Linked DNA regions of Homo sapiens: region 2 is linked to region 1. The links come from fine-mapping of genetic effects on gene expression. A gene starts in region 1. The other region holds a variant in brackets. All regions are shown on one strand. Distances are from middle to middle. Region 1 holds the start of ATG2A (autophagy related 2A). Region 2 has its middle 12 kb from the start of BATF2.

Region 1 (5,370 bases):
TCCTTCCACAAGCAGTTTCTTCTTTTTTTTTTTTTGAGACAGAATCTCGCTCTGTCAGCCAGGCTGGAGTGCAGTGGCACAAACTTGGCTCACCACAAGCTCCGCCTCCCAGGTTCACACCATTCTCCTGCCTCAGCCTCCCGAGTAGCTGGGACTACAGGCGCCCGCCATCACACTCTGCTAATTTTTTAAATATTTTTTAGTAGAGATGGGGTTTCACTGTGTTAGCCAGGGTGGTCTCGATTTCCTGACCTCATGATCCACCCGCCTTGGCCTCCCAAAGTGCTGGGATTACAGGCATGAGCCACCGTGCCTGGCCCATAAGCACTTTCTGAATGGCTGTCCTATCAGCCTGCCTCCCTGAATGGAGCCTGCTCCTTCCAGGTAATGAACTATCTCCACTTACTAACCCAACCCCAGTTACATAGGATAAAACTGAGGGTCACAAGAGGAGAAGAAACCACCCATGGGTGGGACTGGAATACAGGTCCCTGCCCGGTGGGCCAGGGCGGTTGCCCTTGCTTCAGGCTGAGTTTTGGCATTAGAATGTAAGAGTCCAGCTCCCAAGTAAGATTAAAATAGAAACACAGGCTAGGTGGGGTAGCTCACACCTGTAATCCCAGCTACTCAGGAATTCCTTGAACCCAGGAGCCAGAGGTTGCGTGAGAGGAGACTGCACCACTGCACTCCAGCCTGGGCAACAGAGCAAGACTCTGTCTCAAAAAAAATAAATAAAATAGAAACATAGGCCGGGCACGGTGGCTCGTGCCTGTAATCCCAACACTTTGGGAGGCCAAGGCAGGCTGATCACCTAAGGTCAGGAGTTCGAGACCAGCCTGCCCAACACGGTAATTAGCTGGGTGCGGTGGTGCATGCCTGTAATCCCAGCTACTCTGGGAGGCCAAGGCAGCAGAATCATTTGAACCCAGGAGGCAGAGGTTGCAGTGAGCCAAGATTGTGCCACTGCACTCCAGCCTAGGTGACAGAGAGAGTCTGTCTCAAAAAGAAAAGAAAAGAAACATAATTACCTATGGCTGTTCCTGAAGTCGCCCATGATGTAAGAGGTTTTGTGTGGCTGCCCCCTACAGAGCAGCGGTTGGCAAACTTTTTCTGTGAAGGGCCAGAAAATAAATATTTTAGGCTTTGCAGGCCTCTGTCTCAAGTACTGAATTCTGCTCTTGTAGCAAGAAAGCAGCCCGGGGCAGAACTTAAGCAAATGAGCAAGACTGTGTGACACTAAAACGTTATGTATAAACACTGGAATGTGAATTTCATATGATTTTTCACATGCCATGAAAAGTTCATTCTTCTTTTGATTTTTCCCCTAACCATTTAAAAGACATAAAAACCATACTTAGCTCAAAGGCCGTACAAAAACAATGCCCCCCTGCTTAAAGGAGGCAGAATCCATTCTTTGATTTTAGGACTAGAGATATGAAAAGCTATTATTATTTCAGAGAGGTGCCTAAGGCCTGACCGACGGCAGAGAGAAGGGAGGGTCAGTTAATCTCCCTCTGAGCATTCCGGGGTGAGGAGGGGAAAAAAGACCTTCCTTGGTGATGGATTCAGAGCCCTTATTTATTTTTGTTTGTTTTTGAGGCAGGGTCTTTCTCGTATCTTAATCTGTTTTCTTACCTGTAAAGCGGTGGCAATAATCCCTACCTTGAGCGATTATTAAGAGGGCTCAATGAGATAAAGGATGGTAAAAGATTTTGCAAAATGCGAATGTTTACTCACTTAATTGTTTCCACAGATGCGCGCTTAAGATCGCGCACTGAGTTTACTCCTCTGGGGAAGGCTTCTACGAAGTTTGATGGGACACTGTCCCTTTAAATCCTCCCCAACCACTTAAAGTGGTTGGACGAATCAGCACATGCGCATTCCTTTGAGGGGCCGGCACCTGGAGCAACAGCCTTCCCAGAGCCTGTAGAGGGGAGGTTAAAGGTCCTCCCACACAGTACTTTACGCAAGCGTAAATCATGATTGAGAGCCCTATATCATGCAGAGAGCCCAGTCCCTTTTTCGCGCCCGAAGGCTCCGCCCCGCGCAGCCAATCAGTAGGCCTCGCCCTTTGCAATAGCCAATGACAGTGAGCGTAGGGGGCGTGGCTGGGCGTCCGGAGGCGCGGCCTGGCGCCTAGAGAAGCGGCGGGGCGAGCCGGGGGCTCTAGTGAACAGCGGAGCCGGACGGGGATCGCCGGCGGGCGGCAAGCGGAGGCGGCCCAGGCCCGGCGGTCTCCGAGATGTCACGATGGCTGTGGCCATGGTCAAACTGTGTGAAAGAGCGGGTCTGCCGCTACTTGCTGCACCACTACTTAGGTCACTTCTTCCAAGAGCACCTCAGCCTGGACCAGCTCAGCCTCGATCTGTACAAGGGCAGCGTTGCCCTGCGAGACATCCACCTGGAAATCTGGGTGAGGAGCCAGGCCCGAGTCCAGGAAGGTGCGGAGGGTGGGAGCGCAGCGACCTGAGGCTCCCTGCGGCAGGATCGGGCTGGGGGATCAGGCACCGGGCGTAGAGAGGCCAGGGGAATCTTGCCCTCTCCAGGCGTCAGAGGCACCCCGGCTGGCCTCTTCAGTTCCTTACCAGAGCCAGAAACTGAGCGGGAAGGGGTTTCTGTCTCCACGGGAGGAGAAACTGAGGCTGGAGAGGGCAAGATCACCTGTCTGGAGAATGCAAGACAAACTCGTCGAGTTTGGGGGCTGAGTTAAGGAGGTTGGCTCTCGGGCTGAGGAGGGGCTGGGGAGGGAGCGTAGGAACTGAGCTGGGCCAGGGCAGTGACAGACTTGGGCCTGCGCAGCTGGTGGGGGAAGCTGGTAGGGGTCCGGAGCCCTGGCGAGGACACCTGTGGATCATGTGCCCTGACCTCTTGACCCCACGGTCCTGAGCCCGTAGGTGGGATCAACAAACCACCGGATGTGTATGTCAACAACCGCGTCAGTACGTCAGTACCAGTGTTGATCAACACCTCGTGTGCCTGGGTCGCTGCCTACTTCCTGCTTTTGGGAGAGTGGGATGGGCCAAGTGGGTGTCTAGGGAGGGACTGGATGGCCCCCACCTACATCTCCCACCGACCCCCCCGGCTCAGTGTCCCTGCCTGGAGGGAGGCCCTGGAGGAAAGGTGGGGAGATCTGGCTTCAAGCCGGGAGGAGGCCAAGGGAGATGCTAGGGAGGCCAAGAGGTGTAAGGTCAGAGGCTTGAGGCTGGGAACGGTGAGGAGCCCTGACTCACAGCTCAGCTGACCTGGGGAGCTTTGAAGGAGCCACCAATTAGAGGCGCGTCCTGGTCGATCCACCAGGTCCAGAGCAGCAGGGGTGGGCATGGAGGCAGGGACTTCTCAGTTTTGTGGCTGGACTCAGGGGGCTGCTAATCTGGGCAGAAGAGCTAGGCTTTGGGGGTAGGCCAGGCCCTGGTGAGCAAATGTGGGGTAGGATAATCGTGGGCCCTGAACTGGGGGCACCCCCCAGTGGCCTGCTGTCTGTGAATTCTGGTGTAGGAAGCCCTCTCTGACCTCTAACCTTAGCCTCAGCCTCTAAGGCCGTCTCTAGGCTGCCCCTTTTTTATTTTTATAGAGACAGGATTTCGCTATGTTGCCCAGGCTAGCCTTGAACCCCTGAAGGGATCCTCCCACCTCAGCCTCCCAAAGTGCTGAGATTATAGGCATGAACCACCATACCCAGCCCTAGGCTTCCCCTTTTTACTTTCAGCTCCAGAAAACGCCCCTACTCCTGTTCCCTGCCCTCTTGTTGGGGATTGAATTGGCTTCTCTAGGGCCCTGGTGGAATGCAGGCGCTTTCTTGATAACCAGCCCCTCCTCCCTCCCAGCTCAGCCTGCAGGCCCCGCCTTGAAGGCCCCCAAAGAAACTGAGTATCTGGGGCCTCTGAAGTGGCATGAAAAGAAAGAGGCCCGCATCCCAGTCTCAGTCCCTGTTGTATACTGGGTGACTAGATTAGTCCTGTCTCTAGGCCTCAGTTTCCCGAGCTGTGGGTCTCTGGGTGAGGAATTTGGACTCCCATCTGCTCTGCCATGTGCTTTTTTATTCTTGGATCCAACCAGTTTACTGAGGCCCTTTCTGGGTGGCACCTGGGGTGACGGGGGAGGCAGGTGGGGTACAGCCCTCCAGGAGCTTCCAGGTTGGCAGGGGTACAACTCCAGCATGGACATTTTAGCCAGGGGCTCAGCCTTGTGCCTCACAGAGAGGCACAGCTACACTAGGTGTTTGGGGTTGGTGGTGGGGGGGGGGGGTCCCATCTGGCATTAGGTCAGCCCCTCTCTTGGACACTGTCCCTTTGAACTCTGCTCATCCAGGGTGAACATGGGTATTCTGGACTCTGCCATACATGTGCCCATGTTGTCCTGTGCCTGCAACACACCACCTTCTACCAGCGCCTATCCCCCCTCCCTTTATTCTTCAGCTTGCCCCTCCTCTGACGGCCCAGGCTGGGTTAGGCGTCTTCCCCACGGCCCCCCCACCAGCCCCCTCACCACCCCCAAGCACCTGCTCACCTCTTGAGTTTCATCCTAGTTGCTCTGAGTCCCTGGCTGGAGCCTAGCTTGGCTGGGGAATGAAGACATTTTATTTACCCATCTAGTCTCAGTGTCAGCATGTAGAAAGTGCTCGGTAAATATTATCTTGAATTAAGTGGTGAGGGAAACATCTGCTCTGGCTTGAAGGATTAGGCACCTTTGGGTGACGGGGTAGGGGGGCTGGCCTGTAGTAGGGGACAGCATGAGCATAGGTGGGACCTTGTAGATAACACGTGGAGGGACAGGGCAAGCCAAGGGTGCTCTCCAAGGCACTATGGCCAGATAAGGCTGTGCCAGCCTGTGGGATTTGGGGTTTCCCTGAGCTGGTTTTGTCTCTTGCTTGCTCCCAGTCTGTGAACGAGGTGCTGGAGTCAATGGAGTCACCGCTGGAGCTGGTGGAAGGCTTCGTGGGCTCCATCGAGGTGGCCGTGCCCTGGGCTGCTCTGCTCACCGACCACTGCACAGTGCGCGTGTCCGGCCTCCAGCTCACCTTGCAGCCCCGCCGGGGTCCAGGTGAGGGCAGGGCGAGGCTGGGGGCAGGCAAGTGGGGAGAGTGGGCTGGGGCGTCCAGGACCTGACTGGGCCTGCCTGCCTTGAGACCCTGTTTCTCCCTACAGCGCCAGGGGCTGCCGACTCACAGAGCTGGGCCTCATGCATGACCACAAGCCTGCAGCTGGCCCAGGAGTGTCTGCGGGATGGGCTACCGGAGCCCTCTGAGCCACCACAGCCCCTGGAGGGGCTGGAGATGTTTGCCCAGACCATTGAGACTGGTGAGCAGGCCCCTCCTGGCCGCCCTGTCTCCTGCCCTTCAGTGGCACACAGAACAGGGGCTCCAGACAACGG
Region 2 (5,370 bases), 68 kb before region 1:
AGAGAAATAGAACCAATAGAGTGTGTGTGTGTGTGTGTGTGTGTGTGTGTGAAGACAGAGAGATTTTTTTTTTAATGTTGTTTTTTTTTTGAGATGGAGTTTCACTCTTGTCACCCAGGCTGGAGTGCAATGGTGCAATCTCGGCTCACTGCAACCTTCGCCTCCCGGGCTCAAGTGATTCTCCTGCCTCAGCCTCCCAAGTAGTGGGGATTACAGGTGCCCACCACCACACCCAGCTAATTTTTTCCTTTTTTTGAGACAGAATCTCGCTCTGTCGCCCAGGCTGGAGTGCAGTGGTGCAATCTCGGCTCACTGCAAGCTCCGCCTCCCGGGTTCACGCCATTCTCCTGACTCAGTCTCCTGGACTACAGGCGCCTGCCACCATGCCCGGCTAATTTTTTTTTTTTTTTTTTTTTTGTATTTTTAGTAGAGACAGGGTTTCACCATGTTAGCCAGGATGGTCTCGATCTCCTGACATTGTGATCTGCCTGCCTCGGCCTCCCAAAGTGCTGGGATTACAGGCATGAGCCACCACACCCAGCCTCACGCCCAGCTAATTTTTGTATTTTTAGTAGAGATGGGGTTCCACCATGTTGGCCAGGCTGGTCTCGAACTCTTGACCTCAAGTGATCTGCCCGCCTTGTCCTCCCAAAGTGCTGGGATTACAGGCGTGAACCACCACGCCCTGCCAAGGGAGACTTATTTTAAGAAATTGGCTCATGTGATGATGGAGGTTGGCAAGTCCAAATTCTTCAGGGTGAATTGTCAGGCTGGAGCCCCAGGAAAGTGCTGCTGTTGCAGTTCAAGTCCAAAGGCCACCAGCTGCAGAACTTACTCTAGCTTGGAAAAGGTTAGTCTTTTTGTTCTATTCAGGCCTTCAGTCGATTAGATGAGGCCCACCTACATTATGGAGGGCAACCTGCTTTATTCAAAGCCCACCAACTTCAATGTTGATCTCGTCCAAAAACACATTCACAGAAACATTCAGAATAATGTTTGACCACATATCTGGGCACTGTGGCCCAGCCAAGAGGACACATACAAGTAACCATTGTGCCAGGTTCACATAGCAAAGGGAAGTCACAGGGCTGTGGATGGCAGCAGAGCCATGGTCACCAGCGATTCAGGGAAAGCAAACAGGTGGGAGGGAAGCGAAGGTGCTGTTGGTTAGAGGTGGGCTGGAGTCTGGGACAGGATTCAACATACTCTGGGCACGAGGACTCAGTGGAGGATGAGGACAGCATGGTCGTGCTGTATCTGTATACCCTAAAGTATAGTAGGCTCTGTGCTATTTTACTTGGATTAACTCAATGATGCCTCTAGTAACTCTGTGACGTATGCTTCTCAACCCCACTGTTCAGAAGAGGAAACTGTCTTTGAGCTAGAGCTGTAAGAAAGAGAGAGAAAGGGAAACTGAGGTCCAGAGGTAGTAAGTAATAAGTCCAAGGTCACATAGCTAGGAAACTATATAGACTTGGTTCAACAATCAGGAGCCCTTAGCTGCAGGCAACCCAGCCTTCAACCTTCCTGGATTCTCATTGCAGGCCCAGACTTCAGGGGCAGCACATGCTAATAGATATGACCCAAGAAGGTAAAACTCTACCCCACCCTCAAACAAATAGATGGGAGTGATTCAATTAATGCTGGTACACTCATGTGATGGACTACTGAAAAGCTGAATAAAGAATGCTTGGCCAGGCGCGGTGGCTCACGCCTATAATCCCAGCACTTTGGAAGGCCAAGGCAGGCGATCATGAGGTCAGGAGTTCAAGACCAGCCTGGCCAACATGGTGAAACCCTGTCTCTAATAAAAATACAAAAATTAGCTGGGCATTGTGGCGGGTGCCTATAATCCCAGGTACTCGGGAGGCTGAGGCAGGAGAATTGCTTGAACCCGGGAGGCAGAGGTTGCAGTGAGCCGAGATCACACCACTGCACTCCAGCCTGGGCGATGGAGCAACACTCCGTCTTGGGCGGAAAAACAAGTTACTTGGGTGGCTGAGGTGGGAGGATTGCTTGAGCCAGGGAGGTCGAGGCTGCAGTGAGACATGATCGAGCCACTGCACTCCAGTCTGGATGACAGAGTGAGATCCTGCCTCAAAAAAAAAAAAAAAATAGAGAATTCAAGGGAAGGGTCTCTCAGGAGGTGTCATTCAGGATGAGACCTGACAAGATGAGAATGACAAGAGAGAGTCAGCCATGCAAAGATCTAGGGAAAGAACATGCCACTCAGAGGCAATACCATGTGTAAAAACTCCGGGTCTGGAAAAAGCGCTAAACGTAGGCTGGGCACGGTGGCTCACACCTATAATCCCAGCACTTTGGGAGGCCGAGGCGGGCGGATCACAAGGTCAGGAGATTGAGACCATCCTGGCTAACACGGTGAAACCCTGTCTCTACTAAAAATACAAAAAATTAGCCGGGCGTGGTGGCAGGCGCCTGTAGTCCCAGCTACTCAGGAGGCTGAGGCAGGAGAATGGTGTGAACCCGGGAGGTGGAGCTTGCAGTGAGCCGAGATGGCGCCACTGCACTCCAGCCTGGGCAACAGAGCGAGACTCCGCCTCAAAAAAAAAAAGAAAAAGCACTAAACATGTTAGAGGAACAGAAAGGAGTAGGCCAGCTGGGCGCAGTGGTGCACACCTCTAATCCCGGCACTTTGGGAGGCCGAGGTGGCTTGAGCCCATGAGTTTGAGACCAGCCTGGGCAACAAAGCAAGACCTTGTCTCTACTAAAAATTCAAAGAATTAGCTGGGCGTGGTGGCATGCACCTGTAGTCCCAGCTATTCGAGAGGCTGAGATGGGAGAATTGCTTGAGCCCAGGAAGTCAAGGCTACAGTGAGCCATGATCATGCCCCTGCACACTGGGTGACAGAGCAAGACTTGTCTCAAAAAAAAAAAGAAGAAGAAGAAGAGAAAAGAAAGGAGGAGGAGAATCAGGGAAGAGAAAAGG[A/G]AAGATGAAGTCTGAGAAGAGGCCAGAAAAATTGTGTAAGCCATGAGAAGGATGTGAGATTCTTCCTGTGTGAGTGGGAGAATTTTTTTTTTTTTTTGAGATGGAGTCTCGCTCTGTTGCCCAGGCTGGAGTACAGTGGTGCGATCTCAGCTCACTGCAAGCTCTGCCTCCCGGGTTCACGCCATTCTCCTGCCTCAGCCTCCCAAGTAGCTGGGACTACAGGCGCCTGCCACCACACACAGCTAATTTTTTGTATTTTTAGTAGAGACAGGGTTTCACCGTGTTAGCCAGGATGGTCTCGATCTCCTGACCTCGTGATCTGCCCGCCTCAGCCTCCCAAAGTGCTGGGATTACAGGCGTGAGCCACCACACCCAGCCGTGAGTGGGAGAATTTTAAACAGAGATGTACACTGATTTTTTTTTTTTTGAGACGGAGTCTTGCTCTGTTGCCCAGGCTGGAGTGCAGTGCACGATATTGGCTCACTGCAATCTCTGCCTCCTGGGTTCAAGAGATTCTCCTGCCTCAGCCTCCTGAGTAGCTGGGATTACAGGTGCCTGCCACCGCGCACAGCTAATTTTTTATATTTTTGGTAGGGACAGGGTTTCACCATGTCGGCCAGGCTGGTCTCGAACTCCTGACCTCAATTGATCCAGCCACCTCAGCCTTCCAAAGTGCTGGGATTACGGGCGTGAGCCACCGTGCCCAGCCTCTGATTTTTAAATTCATTTAAAATATATTCAGCTCCTCTTTTCAAACACTATCCTAGGCATTTGGGATAAAGAAGAGAACAAAACAGACAAAAATGCTTATATTTAATAGGGAAGCTGGGTCAAGAGGGGTAAGACAAGAAAAGAGGAATTGAGAGGGTCAGGGTGGAGAAGGTACAATTTAAAATAGGGTGGTCGCCCAGGCGCGGTGGCTCATGCCTGTAATCCCAGCACTTTGGGAGGCTGAGGTGGGAGGATCACTTGAGGTCAAGAGTTCGAGACTAGCCTGGCCAACATGGCAAAACACCGTCTCTACTAAAAATACAAAAATTAGCCAGGTGTGGTGGCAGGAACCTGTGATCCCAGCTACTCAGGAGGCAGAGGCACAAGAATCACTTGAACCTGGGAGGTGGAGGTTGCAGTAAGCCGAGATCGCGCCAGTGCACTCCAGCCTGGGTGACAGAGCGAGACTCAGTCTCAATAAAATAAATAAAATAAAATAAAATAAAATAAAATAAAATAAAATAAAATAAAATAAAATATAAAATAAAATATAAAATAAAATATAAAATAAAATATAAAATAAAATAAAATAAAATAAAATAAAATAAAATAAAATAAAATAAAATGAGTGGTCAACGTCAGTTCAATAGGAAGAGAGTATTTGAAGCCAGGTGTAGTGGCTTCAAATCCAAGCACTTTGGGAGGCTGAGGTGGTCAGATCACTAGAGGCCAGGAGTTCAAGACCAGCCTGGCCAACATGGCAAAACTCAAACTCCTTCTCTACTAAGAATACACACACACAAAAAGAAAATTAGCAGCTGGGCACAGAGGCTCACGCCTGTAATCCCAGCACTTTGGGAGGCCAAGGTGGGCGGATCACCTGAGGTCAGGAGTTCCAGACCAGACTGGCCAACATGAAACCCCATCTCTACTAAAAATACAAAAAAAATTAGCTGGGCATGGTGGAACATGCCTGTAATCCCAGCTACTTGGGAGGCTGAAGCAGGAGAATTGCTTGAACCCAGGAGGCAGAGGTTGCGGTGAGCTGAGATCATGCTATTGCACTCCAGCCTGGGCAACAGAGCAAGACTCCATCTCAAAAACAAAAGAAAGAAAGAAAAGAAAAAAGAAAATTAGCAGGGCATGGTGGCGCATGCCTGTAGTCCCCACTACTTGGGAGGCTGAGGCACAAGCATCTCTGGAACCCAGAAGGTGGAGGTTGCAGTGAGCAGAGATCACGCCACTGCACTCCACCCTGGGTGACAGAGTGAGACTCCGTCTCAAAAAAAAAAAAAAAAGGCAGAGGACATTTGAGCAAGGTCTTGAAGAAGGCAGTGAATTAGCCAGGTGGAGATGAGTTCCAGGCAGAGGAAACAGCCAGTGCCGAGGCCTGGGGGCAGGTGTGAGCCTGAAACATTTGAGCCAGGGGGCTGGTGTGGCTGGAGGGAGGGAATGAAGGAGGGTCAGAGATGGTCAGTTGGTCAGGGATAAGGTCAGAGAGGTAACCAAGGGCCAGATCATACAGACCACTGCAAGGGCATTGCCTTTTTTCCATGAATCAGGGAGCCCGACATTTAAAAAAGATCAGATTGTTCAGGGGTGTGAATGGAAGCAGTGAGGTGGTAAGAAGAGGTCAGCCCATCTGACAAGGGATTAATAACCAGAATATATAAGGAGCCCAAACAACTCTCTAGGAAAAGATCTAATAA

What was found. PIP is the estimated chance that this variant, and not a neighbour inherited with it, causes the effect.
Region 2: its variant is fine-mapped to the expression of ATG2A in whole blood (TOPMed, PIP above 0.99).

Annotation. Positions count from the first base shown.
Region 1 is chr11:64,914,008-64,919,377 of GRCh38, reverse strand. It overlaps ATG2A (autophagy related 2A), which reads left to right and starts at 2,169. Exons shown (of 41, transcript NM_015104.3): 1 at 2,169-2,413; 2 at 4,878-5,040; 3 at 5,145-5,297. The coding sequence starts at 2,243. It also overlaps a transcript of PPP2R5B not described here. RefSeq lists an enhancer at 1,768-1,897 and a silencer at 1,948-2,257.
Region 2 is chr11:64,982,391-64,987,760 of GRCh38, reverse strand. No RefSeq gene overlaps it. Among named protein-coding and RNA genes, the nearest start is that of BATF2, 12 kb to the left of the region's middle. The variant A/G (reference allele first, on the strand shown) is at 2,951.